2 separate regions of the Homo sapiens genome follow, and region 2 is linked to region 1. Evidence: fine-mapped expression QTL. Tissue or cell type: cerebellar hemisphere. Region 1 holds a variant in brackets; the other region holds the start of a gene. All regions are shown on one strand. Distances are from middle to middle.

Region 1 (2,685 bases):
TTAAAAGGGTAACAGAGCACAAGCTACTATGAAGAACCGAATGACTACTAAAGGCCAGAGCTACAGAAATAGATGTAAAAACCTCATGAAAAGAATAGGCCTTAAGGAGATATCCTCTCTTAACCTCAAATAGTGCAAAGTTCCCTGCACCAATCATGACATTCACAAGAATTGAGGAGAAAAAATTAGCTCCTTTACCGATGCAATGAATCCAATATATCTAGATCAGTGGTTCTCAACCTTGGCTGCAGTTTAGAGTCCCCAAGAGAGCTTTTAAAAAATACTTATGCCCAGGTCTTATCTCAGAACAATTAAATTAGAATTTCTAGGGGCTGGGGGTCCAGAGACTGGTAGTTTTAAAAGCTCCCCAGGTGATTCTAATGGGCAATGAGGGTTGAGAATCACTGATCAGGATCATGTGCAGACAGATGCAAATCACAGCAAACTAAACAATGTATTGTTGCATCTTTCGAGTAATTATGGGCTTGAACTTTTGTTCTTTGAATACATGCTAGTAATAAGCCTGCCTGACTCTACCCTTTGCACATTTAACATGGGCCTTCACATCTGGCACACTCTGGCACTGAAAATACCCCTCTTCCCATCCCCACTATTCTTTCAGGTCTAGGACCCATTTGGACTTAGTAGGTTATGATTACTTTCTTTTCTCTTGGTAATTCAGTACTTCCGCAAACTGCTAAAAAATTTCTGTGAAAGTATTATTACAATCAAATTAAAAAGTCAAGTTCACACTTCAAGGGCTTGAGATAATTTGTGGCTACAAATGCACCTATCAGTTACTCTAACTGTGCTTAACAGTTGAACTAGCTCTTTGATTAGGAGAAGAAAGAGATTCATCCCAAAGATTTATTTAACTGACTCAAATTTTTAATCTTCAAATAATGCATTAATTATTGAATGAACTGTCTACACCAGGGTTTACCAACCTCAATGCTATTGACAACTAGGCTGAATATTTCCTTGTTGTGGGGGCTGTCCTGGGCTTTGTAGGACATCTAGCAGCTTTTCCTAGCCTCTACCTACCAGATGCCAATAGTACCTCTCCTTCCCATCTCCTGTTGTGACAACGAAAAATGTCTCCAGACAATGCCAAATATCCCCTTGGGTTGAAATTGCATGTGAGAACCACTGTGTTCCCTCTGAGATCTGCTAGTCTAACCTTCTAAGAATTGCAGAGTAAGCAGATGCATGATCTTACAAATTCTAAAAAGATAGAAACCTGCAGGCACAAATAGGAGAGAAGCTGGCTAATAAGGCTCCCTTTATTTATAGAAGGATTGAAATCTTGCCTTTGGCACTAAAC[C/G]AAAATATCTAAGTGGACATATGCTAACACTGTGCGGTTTAGCACTTTTACTGCTTAAATGAACACAATTAGGTGAGAAAGATCTGCTAACAGGGCTATCAAGAAACTAAAGTGAGACTTTTTTTCTAATGATGCAATATGAATTTAGTAAGATGCAAACACTTGTGTTTCAAACATGACACTGACTAGGAAGAAGTAAAAAAAGAAAAGCAGCAACAATTAATCAAATGTCCTCTGTGTTGGGCCATTTAACCTCCATGCTGAGGTCCTTGACCCAAAGTGACAATAAATTGCCAAACAACAACAAGGGATTGGTGATGGTGCCTCCCAGCTCTCCCTGGTGAAATCAACAGTCAGTCACTTTCATGTTGAATGAGAAAAACACCAGGGCTACAGAGAATCTTATTATTGCTAGGCCAGGATACAAACAGAAACTTGAAAAAGAAACTGCCTTATGGAAGCTGGGCTTAATACCTGGGTGATGGGATGATCTGTGCAGCAAACTACCATGGCACACATTTACCTATGTAACAAACCTGCACAACCTGCACATGTACCCCGGAACTTAAAATAGAAGTTGAAGAGAAAAACAAAGTAAAAAAGAAAAAGAAACTGCCTTAAAGAAAAGCACATGCTCTTCTGAAGCTTATAACTATTTGAGTTGTTTTTGGGCTATAGTCTTTGTTTTGGAAATAGTCAAGTGCAACCAGCACTGAGGAGAAAATAAGTTTTCATGTCAAATCACATTTTCTTTTCTTCATCTGTAAAATGAAGACTTTGGACTAGGATCTGAGCTGTAACATACTAAAATATCCCCTGCTGTCTTTCCCACCAACGGCCAACATTGCTAATCAATGAGACCCTAGATGAGACCCTGGAATCTTAGCAACACTGAACTCTAGGCAGCCACCCACCAATAAACTGGAATGCTGAAAGAGGTGAAATCAATTTGCCATCCCATATATAATGTTACATGAAAAGAACAGAGACAAAATTACATACGCACAAAACCAAACTCAGGAAAATAAAATATATTTGTGTCACATCAGTTATTTATCTGATACCTGACATACTCAACTAAATACAGGGGTGTGCCTAAGCTCTGCCAATGAGATGTAAGTGCAAGTGTTGTGCGGAACTTCCAGGAAGGTTCATTAAAGTATTTGAATCAACTGAGAGAAAGCTGTCTCCTTCCTACTGCCTGGAATGCAAATATGATGGCTAGAACTCTTGCAGCTATACTGCACTTAAAGGTGTTCTTGGTGATGGAAGCCATGTTCAATGTAGCAGAAAGATAAGGATCTTTTCATACCATAAAACCACAACCAAACCCAGAAATTCCTGTTTCTAAACTTGCATAC
Region 2 (2,685 bases), 230 kb after region 1:
TCTACACATCACCTAAATCACTAGACCTGTCCTCAATTTTAAAACACACACACACACACACACACACACAAAGTACACCAGTCGGCAGAACAGGGCATTATAGGAAATAAAGAGTGTTAGTAAAATCCATAATGCTTTCTGTTAGACCTTCTGGGAGGTTATAATTGCATTTGGCCGGCTGCAGCCTTGTCGGAGAGCCTGGCTTCTTAATAGTCTCAACCCTAAAAGGAGTAACTGTCAAGGGGCGACCCAGCTGAAATCAAACAACAAAAACGGGAACTGTAACCCGCCTGAAATGGGAGGAGGAAAAGGAAGGGAGACTCCTGTATTCATCAGTCAACATTAATGTCCTTTGTTGTTCACCTTTACACAGAACAGCGAGAGCTATCCTGTTCCTTTTTCTCCGAACGCCAGTGTCAGGGTATGCTTTCCTAAAAGCTATCTCCCTGCCCCCAAGAACCAGGCTTTCCGATCCCCCTCCCCATTTATCACTCAGCAGCCCTGTACCGCCACACCGCCCCCACTGCGCTCACCCGGGGTCGAGAGGGTGGCCAGAAGTAAAAACACTGCTGAAATACCCGTTCTTCTCCAAAGACCAAAGAACCGAGCGGCGCAGATGTTGAAATTTACCAATGCCCCCGCCCCGCAACATACACACCCCATAAATCCGGGATCGCAGAGAGGGAGGAGGGTCAGAGAGGGCTCAGCTTGTCAGAGCGGCTCTCTCCAGGACCCTGCCACATTCCACACTCCGGGAATGTCGATCCGAGCCAGAGGGAAGGGTTTGCGCCTCCCTACTGTTTTGGGGGTGTTCTCTCTGCCCGAGTGTTGTTGTCTCCCTCTCCACCCAGAGGAACCGTTGCAGCTCCCTGTCGCTTTGGGGAAGAAGGGTAAGGAAGGAGAGAAACCCCATTCGCCTCCTCTTCCAACTTGACACACACACACACACACACACACACGCCCAGTCGCCACTCCAAACTCCGCAGGCAGAGCCCGAAGCTAGCGGGCCGGCCGCGCGCTCCCCCAAGCTGTCCCGGCGCTTCGGGAACCAGTGCGGGGCGCGCCGAGCAGGCGGTGCGGGGCGAGAGCCTGGTGCGCAGCCCTCTGCCTGGAGCTGGCTCGGCAAAGCCCCGTACCAGCTGCGCGATGCCAGGATTAGGCATTTTCAACCGGGCGGAGCGAGAGGGGCGCGGGGGCAAGGACGAGAAATGCGCACTCGCTCGGGCCAGAGCAGAATAAAAGTTCGCCCCGCGGAGACTCACCCACGCCGTATTTCTCGTGCTCCGTAGGTATCCACATGGCTAAAGGGGCTCCGGGGTCTTCAGGCTTTGTAATCCCCGCGCCCCTTCTCCGGCTCACAACAATGCACAGTCCCCGAGCAGCGCTGCAGTGCCGGAGCCCAGCGGCTTCGCGCGGGCTGCGGGCGCTGGGCAGGATCTGCGCTGGAGGCTCCCGAGCCCAGCGTTGACACTGCGCCGCCCGCAGCTCTCCCGGCGGCGGCTGCTCACAGTCCTCCGACGCGCTCCCGGGTACCCGGCGGCGCAGTCATTGTTCTGATTCACTGAACTAAGCGAACACGCCGGGGCACTCTCCGGCGCACCCCCGCCCGCCAGCGCCTAGTCCAGCCCTCCCGTCCCAGGGCCCCGCAGCACGCTGGGAATTGTAGTTCTTGGCCTCCCCATCCCGGAAGTGGGCGCGGCAAATGTGGTTCGGGGCGGGGATTCAGTTTTACTGATTGCGTCCTATTGGTCCAGAGCGCGGCGTAGGTGTGGAGAAAACATTACGTCGACGGGGAGTTCGCCTCCAGTAGCGTTTCTACTGGTGCCACCCCGCCTCCGACCCGCCCTGCGGCCCTCCCTTTTCTTTTCTGCCGGGTAATGGCTGCTTCCAAGACCCAGGGGGCTGTCGCCCGAATGCAGGAAGACCGTGATGGGAGCTGCAGCACAGTCGGGGGTGTAGGTTATGGGGGTGAGTACGGTGCCCCGGAGGCGCGGCTGATGTGTCTTCCTTTCTCTATGACCGGGTGTGCAACGGACCTCTGGTCTGACCCTAGGAGCCCTTCAGCTCTGGGGCCACCTGGGTTCGACTGGGCCCCACGGGTGGTGGCCCAGCGGGATGGGTTGGAGCCGGTGGCGGCTACTTGGTTGGGGCTGCCCGGGGATGGCGGAGAAAATGCCATGGGATGGCGGAGAAAATGCCATGGAATGGCCTTCCCCTCCGCCGGGGAAGCTCCCTGAGCGTTTGTCTTCTGGTTTGGAGCTCCCAGCTTTGAGCTAGCTGCTGAGTGGGTTTGGTTCAGATCTGGTTCGCGCGCGTGTGTTTATAATTTTGGGATTAGCAGCTCTTTCTCCTCACCAGTACACTGCCTTGGTTTGCTTGGTTTGACCTCGCAGGTGTGTTTTATTTAGCTTCCGGAGTATTTCCAGTCGCAGACTGGTGGTCACTGCTCTCCACTCTACAGATTTGCCCAGTTTGTGGCTGAGGTGACCTCTGAAGGGAAAGTGTGTGTATCTCACAACCTCCCTGTAGATGGTTAACTGCTCTGGGTGTTCTTCAGATTTGTATGTGGAGCCTGAGAGATCTTCCCAGTCTCTGGGTCCTTAGAGAAAGAAAAGGAAAGTGATAGATAATTTGCACTCGTGGCTTCAAAGAACATTTGAAAAGAGTTTTGAAAACCATCACAAC

Which allele goes with the higher level. Positions count from the first base shown, and alleles are read on the strand shown. Sizes are in standard deviations (SD) of each study's normalised expression.
For the expression in cerebellar hemisphere of the gene that starts at base 1,560 in region 2, allele C in region 1 goes with a lower level than allele G (moderate effect, 0.63 SD a copy in GTEx).

Evidence for each region. PIP is the estimated chance that this variant, and not a neighbour inherited with it, causes the effect.
Region 2: it holds the start of DOCK4, and the variant in region 1 is fine-mapped to the expression of DOCK4 in cerebellar hemisphere (GTEx, PIP above 0.99). The same link has a PIP of 0.9 or more in cerebellum.

What each region holds. Positions count from the first base shown.
Region 1 is chr7:111,979,628-111,982,312 of GRCh38, forward strand. All of the region lies in intron 7 of DOCK4 (dedicator of cytokinesis 4), which reads right to left. Among named protein-coding and RNA genes, the nearest start is that of DOCK4-AS1, 170 kb to the left of the region's middle. The variant C/G (reference allele first, on the strand shown) is at 1,325.
Region 2 is chr7:112,204,840-112,207,524 of GRCh38, forward strand. It overlaps DOCK4 (dedicator of cytokinesis 4), which reads right to left and starts at 1,560. Exons shown (of 53, transcript NM_001363540.2): 1 at 1,263-1,560. The coding sequence starts at 1,299. ZNF277 (zinc finger protein 277) reads left to right here and starts at 1,856. Exons shown (of 12, transcript NM_021994.3): 1 at 1,856-1,968. The coding sequence starts at 1,878. RefSeq lists a silencer at 1,432-1,781 and an enhancer at 1,952-2,071.